Homo sapiens: one gene and its partners. Changing the gene in region 2 together with the main gene of any one other region gives a genetic interaction. Each region holds a gene or a part of one and is shown on either strand. Other genes may lie near its edges.

What was found.
Region 1: changes in SMAD4 (region 2) and MTOR together harm fitness more than expected from each alone (negative genetic interaction), as found in Homo sapiens cells (one large-scale study listed by BioGRID).
Region 3: changes in SMAD4 (region 2) and CDK9 together harm fitness more than expected from each alone (negative genetic interaction), as found in Homo sapiens cells (one large-scale study listed by BioGRID).

What each region holds. Positions count from the first base shown.
Region 1 is NC_000001.11:11,126,397-11,130,117, forward strand, and holds part of MTOR (serine/threonine-protein kinase mTOR), read right to left. Parts: intron 3,443-3,721; coding exon 3,342-3,442; intron 2,556-3,341; coding exon 2,459-2,555; intron 2,157-2,458; coding exon 2,058-2,156; intron 1,731-2,057; coding exon 1,608-1,730; intron 1,411-1,607; coding exon 1,228-1,410; intron 749-1,227; coding exon 614-748; intron 401-613; coding exon 226-400; intron 1-225. UniProt on the Homo sapiens protein: Serine/threonine protein kinase which is a central regulator of cellular metabolism, growth and survival in response to hormones, growth factors, nutrients, energy and stress signals.
Region 2 is NC_000018.10:51,054,050-51,057,770, reverse strand, and holds part of SMAD4 (mothers against decapentaplegic homolog 4), read right to left. Parts: intron 2,991-3,721; coding exon 2,778-2,990; intron 1-2,777. UniProt on the Homo sapiens protein: In muscle physiology, plays a central role in the balance between atrophy and hypertrophy. When recruited by MSTN, promotes atrophy response via phosphorylated SMAD2/4.
Region 3 is NC_000009.12:127,784,874-127,788,833, reverse strand, and holds the start of CDK9 (cyclin-dependent kinase 9), read right to left. Parts: upstream 2,801-3,960; 5' UTR 2,686-2,800; coding exon 2,594-2,685; intron 2,134-2,593; coding exon 2,052-2,133; intron 1,317-2,051; coding exon 1,226-1,316; intron 888-1,225; coding exon 721-887; intron 621-720; coding exon 449-620; intron 291-448; coding exon 142-290; intron 1-141. UniProt on the Homo sapiens protein: Protein kinase involved in the regulation of transcription.

The DNA of each region.
Region 1 (3,721 bases), on a different chromosome or scaffold from region 2:
ATGTGTGATCATGCTTCACATAAGCCCAACTACATGAATGAACTAAGTCCTGAGGACATAATGAGAAATTTGCTTGCCCTCTATTTTCCTCTCAATGAGCATGGGAGAGATGTAGCTATGATAGGTGAGTAGTGGGAATGGCAAGCAGTAATTTCAGAAGAGGGAAGGGGTCTCAGCCAGTGTAGGAGGGAGAAGTGGGTGACAGAAGTGCACAATGGTCCTTACCCATAAGTGTCAATTTCCGGGGCCTCTGCTTGGATGTGATGACTTGCAAAGACGGTGCTATGGACTGAATGCGAATGATTGGCTGGTTGGGGTCATATGTTCCTGGCACAGCCAATTCAAGGTCCCGGCACATCAGAAGTTTTGGGGAAACATATTGCAGCTCTAAGGATGTGAGCTGTAAATAATTACCAAAGGATTTAGTGTTCTGCCTCCAGGGAAGAATTTAAACGCAATTTAAGTATTTTTCAGTGGATTGCTAATAACAATTACTTGTCCCAAAGCAGAAGTAAAACCAGATGCTTTGGAATGAGTGTTAGAACATTCATAGACAGTAAAACAGAAAGGACTATAATGACAGTTAACCCTGCCAGGAGCCTGAAGATCCTACCTGAGGCAGCTGCTTTGAGATTCGTCGGAACACATGATAATAGAGGTCCCAGGCTTGGGTGAGGTCCTTGACATTCCCTGATTTCATGTACTTCCTGCACCACTCTTGGGCCTCCATTAAATCTCGACCATAGGCCTGAGAGAGAAAGCAGGCACGTTTTCAAGTTATCAAAGTCTCAACCAACCCAGGAGGCAAAATCCCCAGGCTGACTGCAGATATTCCTCAGGAGCCCGCTGTGGCCTGAAAACACTGGCAGGGGGCTGGAGAAAGCAAGAGCATAGGTGCAGGCCTCCAACCCTGGAGCTTCCAAACCAGCAGCATGGCTTATAGGGAAGGAAGGGTGAGAGGAGAGACGAGATGACCTCTTGAGAAATCTTGGGCTTTTCCAGTTAAAATTCAGAAGGGTCCCTGTAACTAATTTCTGATGTTTTATGCTCTGTGACCTCCATCAGAGCTCGTTTTATTAAAGTCAGTGGAAAGGCCAGAGGAAAAGAAATCTGACAAAGGCCTTGGGTCACGTCCTTTCATTCTATAAAAACTTTTCTCATTTCATTTTTTTTTAGTGGCAGAATATTTCTACAGGGTTATGTCCTTTCGTGTTTTTTACCCCATACCTGATTAAAGGATGTTTCCTTCAGAGTCTGGGGGCCCCGTTCCATCATAGCATGCAAGGGCTCCAGCACCTCAAACATGCCTTTCACGTTCCTTTCCCCAAAGTACAAACGAGATGCCTCTTCCAGGCCTTCATGCCACATCTCATGCCAGAGGATGGCCACTCGGATCAGCTCCTCGCTCACCTGAAGCCAAGAGAAGAAGGAGAGAAGCATCAAGAATCAGCTAACCTCAGAAAGGTCTGTTTTGGAGACACAGGAGGTACTATTTCCAGCAGTCAGAGGAAGTGCACAGCACCAATGCGAGGAAGAAAAACAATCCCACTTGCGCCCACCAGCTAAGGGACCAGGGTCTATGAAGCCCCACAGTGGCTCCGACCCACCATCATGGCCTGCTGGACCAGGGTGTTGCTGTGCTCACACATGTTCTTCAGAATCTTGTTGGCTGCATTGTGCCGGGCTGTCGTGGTAGACTTAGAAGCCACTGTCAGTGGGTAGATGAGGGCCTGAGGGAAAAACAGAAGAAACATCTATAAAGGAAATGTGGGTTGGGGAAGAGCTGGTATGAATTTTAAGGAGAATAACAAAACAAGTGGTGAGTGTGACATTAACATCTGCTTGAGACTACCAGGAAGGGGCTCAGTCTTCGAGGGAACGCTTTCTTTTTAGCAAGGCTCCCGGGCCCTCTGGGACGGCTGGCTGGACAGACCCTCCTGGGCCAGGATGGAACACATGGCTCCCAGTTCCTGCGCTTGTGTCGCCAGGGCAGCTTTTGGAAAGGCTGACCACCAAACCAGTGGTTAGATGAGAAACTGCCCAGAGTCTCCACATACCTGGGGGTGGTACCGACCAATGTCTGTGAGAAGCTGGTGAATGAGACGTCCCACCAAGGGTCTGGGCGTATCAATTCTTGCAATGAGCTGAGGTATAACCTGGTATTCAAAAAGACACAGTATGTAGCATATGAGACTTGAAACAACTAGTTATTCTTCTAGGCAAAGATCAATTCTTTTAACTTGTTTCGGTTGATGCTCTGAAATGGTTCATTCCCTTCCCTTTAGTTTCTAAAAGAAAATAAAGAAAATATGGACACTTGACACTGGGACCGAGCCCTACTTCCTTAGCACTGTATTAACACACACTGCCTTGTGACACTGAACACAGCATGCTTGTAAGAGGAGACACACAGAAGAGAGACTTGGAGCCACCTTCACCTGTAACCAAGTATCCTCACCTGTAGCCAGGTATCAATCTGGATGGCTTTCACCCCCTCCACTAAGGCCTCATTGACATCTGGCCAGTGACCATAATCAAACCATAAGGTGAGAACTCTGAAAAAGAAATGAGAAAGTCACAGAAAATTTAGTTTCCCAGTTTTTGCCTGCCTGTTTTTCATCTCTAAGGCTCCTGAGAAGAGAGCTGGCAGGGACTCCAACCAGTAACTCTCAAATGTGTTTGGCCTCCCATGGGAGCAGGTGTCTGTGATGGGTGGCAGTGCTCTTGACTGAACACCGTAAGAGTCACCCTGAGCAAATGAGCATTTCATCCCAGGTCACCGAGGGGTCACCATGGCATGTATGCAAACATCAAACAGACGAGCCAGGATAACCTTTAGAAAGCCACAAGTCTGCACATGTAAGAGTCGCTGTACGGCAGAGGCAACAGGGACACCTGGCTCTTAGCTGGCTGGAGATCCTCAAATGAAGGAGGATGTGGACCTTGTCACCTTTACCCTCTGGGTTAACTGATTTGAGTCATTTGTTTAGACCTCTCCAAGTTGCTGAGGGATTTTAGAAATACTGTGACTTCAATAGGCAACAGGGTGGTCAGAAAAAAAGAAATATTGTGATTAACAGATGGGTTAATAATCCCTCCATAATAAACCACACATGGAGAGTTCTCACTCCACTTCTCCTCCTCACTCTCTGTAGGTTTCACCCACACAGGTGGGGCCCAGTCAGCTGTTACTCCTTAAATGCAGTGCAGAAAAAAGGCACATACATCGATCTTGGGTGTCCTGATCAGGGTCAGGAAGGGAAAGAGGACTTTTACGTGTGACTTCTAGGTCTTGCCATTAACATGGCCTACCAGAGTTGCATCCTTCCCTTCTCTGATACCTGAGTGTATCCTGGAGGTTGTTGCCTCGTGACAAGGAGATGGAACGGAAGAAGCCCTGGACGGCAGGCACCGTGTACATCAGGAGGGTTTTGGACAGATCCTGTTGGAACACACACGTGTTAGCGACACTCTTGCCTCTGCTTTCTCATCTGTAAAATGGGCATAAGAGCATACTAACTGTACCTACTTCAAAGGGTGGTTATAACAATTAAATCGGTTAATGCATGAAAAATCTTTAATCATTACCTGGCACATAGCAAAGACTCAATAAATGGCAACTGTATCATAACTGTTATTATCTTGGGCTGACAGTGGCTTCCTGAACAGGATGGAGGGAGGAGGTGGAGCTGAGGCTCTGAACACCCGGATCTCTGGGCCT
Region 2 (3,721 bases):
CTGGACCTTTCTGATTAGGACCCCAAAAATCCAGGCTCAAGAAAATGTTGAAAACTGAAAAATTAATCACTATCAGCACTGATACTAGTAATGGCAGAATGCTAGGGTTTGACAGAGAAAAGCAGAGCAGAAAATTATTTTAAATAGGATGTGATAGTGAAGATGAGGAAGTTAAAAAGATCTAGCTCTGCTGTCCAATCAATATACCATTTACTGGTTAAAAACAAACAAAAAAACTATCAGTCTACTTTCAAATTTTTTCAAGAGCTTTTATAAACCAAGAATCATTTCTTTTCAAGAACACCATCATATTCCCAGATGTACAAGAAATTAATTGCCCTCTCTGTATGTAATATACCAAGAGAATCAAGCTTCTCTTGGCTTGTATTCTATTCAAAAACCATCCTATGATATTGCTTACTGTCCTACATTTTTAAGGCTTTTTTTTTAAAGTGGAAATTTGGTTTCTTAAAGAGCATTAATTAACTCGACTGTTAATCCTATTTGGAAAGCACTAAAGTTATAATTATTTATAACTGGCATCACCTCATTCTTTTCTAAATGGGAGTATAATCAGATGGAAGAGAGTAACATGTCACCATTGCTCAAAGTATCAAAGAAAAGGAATATTTTTCTTTTCTTTACATATCACATTTCCTTAAAGCTAAGAATTACAAAACCAAAAGCTAAAGAGAATATTTCAATACTCCCCAAATTATTTATCTGTAAAAATGACATTTTAGCAACCTCCCTTCCTACTCATCCCCCAGATTCTGCAAGTTATCTTTAAAGGTTAATTATGGTTTTGTTCATATTTTTAACAATTCTACAGGCAATACTCTTAGCTAACTTACAAAAATTGTCATTAACTACACAGGATAAATTATTTTAATTTACAGGTATTTAAAAGGAAATTCTTAAAATATTCAGGTGTCAAAAGAACATAAATTGTAAAGTGACTCACTGTAGTTATCCATACTGAATACTTCCCTTATACAATTCTAAGTATGTAAAATAAAGTTAAACAATACGACTAAATCAGCTCACGTAAAATAGCCTTTCAAATCTTCTATTTTAGTTCAACTTCTTTTCATCAATATACTTTTTGAGACCTAAGGGAACCCTCTTTTTTTTTTTTTTTTTTTTTTTTGGAGATGGAGTCTCGCTGTGTCGCCCAGGCTGGAGTGCAGTGACTCGCTCTCTGCTCACTGCAAGCTCCGCCTCCCGGGTTCACGCCATTTCTCCTGCCTCAGCCCCCGGAGCAGCTGGGACTACAGGCGCATGCCACCACATAAGGGAACATTTTGACACAAGTTCTAAAACTTACAGTATTTACGGTATTCGATTATTAAAATCTACCCAATAAATACCAGGATAAAATTAGCTGCATTTCATTTCTATCACTTTTTCTAATCTTTGAATAGGATTCAACCTCAGGAAACAACACAGTCAAAATGAAGTCACTTTAGTAAGCATTGACAAAGGCACAGAAATTCAATCTCCAGATAATATAAACAGAAGTAGGTAGCTGTGCTCTAGCACTAATCTACGTTCAAGTGGCTATAATGTACCTTCTTTTATTTTCTATCACTACCCACTGTTTGTCAACCATATTCCTAATTTGGTAAATAAAAAGTAGACAGATAATAGAAGCACCAAGTGATTAAGGAACTGGGTTCTCAAGTGCTTAACCTATATGACCCATTTAGAATATGCTGCCTATAGTGAGACTGTCATCTCTTAGATAGCAAACCAAAAACATGTTGCTTTGAAGTGGTGTAATGAATTAAAGGGGAAATTCTGGTATACTTCACTTGAAAACTCACAATTACAGAAATCAGTCCCCCATTTATTCCAAAGATCAAAATTTCTATGTTGAATCTAATCTGATAGTAAAGCAAATACAATAATGGTACTTTCGGTAGCAACTAACACAGTATTAGCCCAGAGCTGTCAAAAATCTATTCTGATGTGGGTTTACATAAATTCCTTTAGCAACTGCATGCAACTAACACCATACACATGCCAAGACAATGCTCTATGATTAATTGAAAAAAAAAAAATGAAAAAAAAGCTACTTCATTTGCCAAGCAGCAAACTATCAAACCTTTGGTTACTGTGAAAATAAGTAACAGAACCAGGTCATATGATCATGCCCCCAAAAACCTGAACCTAGCAGCCCCTCTCCCTCCTATGACATGGCAGAAAAGAAGGATCTTTCTGAAACACTTTTTTTTTTTAATTACACATATATTTTAAAAAGAGATATAGAAGTTAGCTTATATCAAAATTGACTTAATTAATGTCTATCTTGAGCAATATATAACAAATTTGTCAAGATCCCTTTGCACAGTGAGAAAATCAGACAACTACTATAAGGTAATATTGTCCCAGAAAAACCAAAATAAGAACACCGCATTAAAAGAAAGGTTGCAATTCCATTAACACAGACCTTCATAAACATCTTGGATCAAAACTACTTGTTAATTATTTAAATATTTCTCCAAAATATATCTGGGAGCTTAAGAGGCTACTTACTGCTACATGTAATAGTAAAGTATAAATCAGATCATTAATTTAAATCAATATTATAATCAAAGCCATTACTTAAATTCCAAGTGATTGTGCATACCTGTTTAATACCTGTTTACCTATGAAAGATACTACAGTTACTTTTAATGTTTACTTACTTGGAGTTTCCCCCCAAGTGACTACACATAAATAAGCAATGATTAGGAAAACTCAACTTGCTGACTACATCTGATTCTAGAACTCACTTGTGGAAGCCACAGGAATGTTGGGAAAGTTGGCAGTGCTGGTAGCATTAGACTCAGATGGGGCTAACAGAGCTGGGGTGCTGTATGTCTCTGTCGATGCACGATTACTTGGTGGATGCTGGATGGTTTGAATTGAATGTCCTTCAGTGGACAACGATGGCTGTCCCTCAAAGTCATGCACATATTCATCCTTCACCATCATACTTGATGGAGCTATATAGAAAATTAAACATATTTTAAATTTTTATAAGCTTCTATTCCCAGAAAAAAAAATCTTATTAGCAAGTAATATAATAACACCTAAAATCAATTACAGTGTAAATTACTAACCTTAATTCAGAATTTTTTCATATTATTTTAAAAGCATACTACTTTACCAGCAAAAGTCATTTATTCAGCGGTAACAGCATGAGATATATTTTATCAATCAATCTGACTCTCAAATTTGAAGCTAGTCTATGTTTCAACAGCCTCCAGCAACAATCCTAAAAAGGTACTCCTCAGTTTCTTGATAAACCTAGAAGAATAATCACCTAAATACATAAGGCAGGCAAAAACCGAATGGCTGGAAAATGTGTCCAGCTGAGAAAAACAATTATTCGGTCTAAATAGAGACTGAGTATTTAACTATATCTTTTTGTTAATTTCACACTGTGGAGATATGAGTGGGATCTGATAGATATCCAATCCCAGGATCTAGAATTATTGTTAAGCAACATATTCTTTAAAAATGAAGTGTACTGAATGTAATGTCCCCTATAGGTTTAGAACCAAACGGAAAAATTATAAATGAAAAGTCAAACTGAAATTTCCCTCTAGAAACCCAACCCAAATAAGAGTATTTGATTAATATATGGTGTGAGAAAACTCAGTAATCAACATCTTTCACCTATGTGATTACACCTTCATAAGCAAAGCTAGATTCCAGCTGATACAGCATAACA
Region 3 (3,960 bases), on a different chromosome or scaffold from region 2:
ACACACTCCCCACCCCAAGACAGGCCCTGTCACCAAACCAGCCTCCCTTCCAGAGAGGAGCGCTCCTTCCATTCTACTCCCCACTCCTCCTCTGCCGGGGGACCTCGATCTCTGCACCCCGTGGGGACCGGGGCCCCGTACCTCAGGGGTGATGGAGCCGCAGAGCTGACTGATGAGGGCGAGTTGGTGCTGCTCCGTGTTGCCCTGCATGATGGGGCTGCGGGTCCACATCTCTGCCATGATGCACCCAGCACCCCACAGGTCAATGGGGGGGCCGTAGTCCCGCTCCCCTGGGAAGAAGAGCGCACCAGGAGGGCCCCTTGAGCCCGAGGGCCTCCTGAGGCTCAATGCCCCAGGGCCGGCAGCTCAAGAAGCCCTGGCAGTTGGGGGGAAGGGGCCAGGTAGATGCCTGGCCCTCACCCCCCTTGGCCCGCTCGGGAGTCCTCACCGAGCAACAGCTCCGGGGGCCGGTACCAGAGTGTCACCACACGGTTGGTGTAGCGGTTGGGCTGGCTGTTCTTGGCCAGGCTGAAGGCCCGGGCCAGCCCAAAGTCTGCCAGCTTCAGGACCCCATCACGAGTGATAAGCACATTAGCAGCCTTCATGTCCCTATGCAGGATCTGCAGGAAGGGCAAGAGTGGGTCCTTTAGTGACATCCACCCGGGAGTGGGAGCCAAGACCAGCCCAAGCCTGGGTCCTCCTCCCAGCTCTGGCCCCCACCTTGTTTCTGTGGATGTAGTAGAGGCCGTTAAGCAGCATCTGCATCACCCTCTTGATCTCAGACAGCGTGAACTTGACCAAAACATTGCTCAACAGCCCAGCAAGGTCATGCTCGCAGAAGTCGAACACCAGGTATATACTACCCTTGCAGCGGTTATAGGGGGAAGCTGAGGCAGGAATAGAAAGAAGAAAAAGTCAAGAAAACCACACCCAACACACTTTCCCACAACCAGCTTCTTTCTTCCTGCTCCAACCCACGGGCACCCATGCCCTCCAGAGCATCTGTCTGTTCCTTCCTTCACCGGTCAAATATTTTCTGAGTGCCTCTTCTGGGCCAGGGCAGGCCCCGAGGAAGCACCAGCTACGATGAAAGAGGACCAGAAAAAGCAGTCACCATGGGTCCATCTGAGTTAAGAAGAGGCAGTTTAGGTGTGCCTAGTTCCAAGTTTACAAACAAAACCTTAGGCTACAAGTGTCATCTTCTCGTAAGAACCAAATAACTTACCTTTGGTTCGACAAATCTCAATCAAGTTGACCACATTCTCGTGTTTTAGAAGCTGAAGGATCTTGATCTCCCGCAAGGCTGTAATGGGGAACTGGGTGAGAAAGAGGGGAAAGTGGTCAAGAGTGAGCGCAGTACAGAGCCCAGCCCTGGGGTCTGTACTGACAGCCAAGTTGGGAGACAGAGCAAGATCATGGGCTCTGAAACCAGCTGTCTCAGAAGCCTTGTCTATAAAATGGATATTAGTAGCATGCACACTTCAAGATGATGGTTTGAGACAACAAACTGAAACAGCAATACTTTGCTATTAGCCACTAAACGCTCGGCGGTTTCAGTCTTCAAATTTCAGCTCTATGGCTGTTTCGTTGGCAACAAACATGATGATTTAAAAATGTCCTTGCTAATGCACATTACGCAAAAGAAGGTTTATGGGAAGTTGTACTAGAGCTAAGATGGGGTGGAGAAGGGACCGCTCCTTTTAAATACATTAAATAATTGAGTATCAGACACCTTTCAAAAAGCATGCATATATAATCTTTCTTTTACATTAAGCGAAATTTAACACTAAAAAAAGGTGTTTAAAGGCTTCCTAACTTCGTGAAATAAAGTGCACACGATGCATGCATCAACTCCCCCTCCTGGCCTCACCCATAACTGCCTAAGAATGAAACATTTAGTTTTAGGGTGGAAGCCACATTCCCTGGAAATTTCTGAACTACTACAAAAAAATTAAATCTCAACCTGAGACTCCCAGAAGCAGCAGGGTGGAAAACCGACCCGGGGTCCCGGGCAGTTAGCCGGCCGGCCCGCACGCCCGATCCGTACTCACCCCCTCCTTCTCGTTTTCCATCAGCACCTTCTTCAGAGCCACCTTCTGGCCGGTCTTGCGGTGCCTGGCCTTGAACACCTCCCTGCAGGCGGAAAGGGAGACCCGAGAACTCATCAGGCCATTTCCGCAGGGCCCGCCCCTCCCCCACTACAGGAGGAGGGGCAGCAGCAAAGAGATTCCCGGGCGGGGCTGGGCTAGGTACCCAGGGCACGCGGCTACCCCGCCACCCGGCAGCCTGTCTCGTTCGGAGCCTCTGCTTCCTTCCCTCAGTCCCTTCTCCTCACTTGGGCGTCCCTTGGAGAGATCCCGCTCCCCTCACGGGCGCCTCTCTGCAGCCCCTCCCCGCCCCCACCACGGGCCTCAGGCTCCTCCCCACCAGCCGGCTCCGTCAGGCCGGGGCGGGGTGCGGCGCGGCCTAGAGACCAGCAGGCAAGCCCGGGGACAGACGACTTCTCTACCAACTCGGGGGGGGCCCGGGCATCCCGACGTCGGCCCTAGGGGTGCAGGCCCAGGGCTCCCGGCCCCGAGGGGCCCAGCCTTACCCGAAGGTGCCTTGGCCGATCTTGGCGAGCTTCTCGTATTTGGAAACTTCATCACAAAAAGGGCACTCCACCGAGTCGTACTGCTTTGCCATGGCCGCCTCCAACGCGCCGCCGCCGCCCCCAGTCGCTGCTGCCGCCGCTCCTGCTCCGGGTCCCGCCGCCGCCGCACTCCAGGCCCCTCCGCGGCCGCGCCACTTCCGCCTCCACGGCCACTTCCGGCCTCGCGGCGCCGACCCCGCCTCTTCCGCCCGCCGCCCACCGCCAGGCCCCCTGGGACTTGTAGTTCCCGAGAGGCCAGGGGGAGCCGGAGCTGCAGAGGCGCCTCCGCCGCCGCCGCCGCTGCCCCCGCCTCCGCCGCCGCCACTACTAGCGGCGGCCCCGATCGGGGGCGCGGGGAGCCGGGGCGCCGGAGCTGGGGCTCGGGGTGGCGCGTCCCGCTGCATGGGCCCGGGCCGCCGCTGCTGCCGAAGCTGCTGCCGCTCTGGCGCCCGATCCGGGGCCAGCCGCAGTGCCCTGCTCCTCCTCCTCCGACGGCGCCGCCTCCGCCGGGCTGCGCGGGGCGGCGGGCGGGGGGTCAGCCCCCGAGCCGCGGCCTGGGAGCTCCCTGGCCGGACCCGGGCCCGGGGCGGCCGGGCGAGGGGGCGAGACGGGAAGAGCCGACTAGGAGACGGCCCGAGAGCCCAGGAGGGGGCGCGTTATAAAGGGGGAGGTGCCCGGCCTCGCCCTCCCCTCCTCCTCCGCCCGCCCCCGCCCTCCTCCCTCCCACCCTCCGCGGCCGCACCTGCCGCCGCCGCCACCGCCCGCCCGCTCGCTGTCCGCCGGCCGCCCTCGGCGCGTCACCGCCCGCGGCCCCTCCTCCGCCTTCGGAGGTGGGGCCCCGCGCTCGGCACCTGGCTGCGGGCGCCCTGCCGCGTGCCTCAGTTTACCCCCACATGTCGGCTGCAGCGGAAAGCCCCTTCCTCCCCGGCTCGGAGTGCCCCCACAGAGGCGAAGGCGGGAGGCGCGGAGGGAGCGTCCTCCGGCCCTGGGAGGAGAGAACGGCCCCCGCCTCCGCCTCCCCCGGTCCCCGCCACCCTCCGTTGACATGGCAACCGACGGCCGCCAGGGGGCGCGGCGGCACTAGCGGCGACGAGCAAGCAACGCCCGGGCCTTCTATCGCTGGGGTCTGGCTCTCCGGGAGGCAGGGATGGGACCCGCAGGACTCCCACCTCCGCTGAGTCGTGCCAGAGCTGGTCGGGCCCCGAGTCAGTAATCGCAAAAAACAGCTACCATTTTCTCAGCACTCTTGTGTACTCAGGAAGTGCTGGGCGTTCCCGCCGAATCCTGAATCAACAGCCCCATAGTCAGGATCACTAACCCATTTTGCA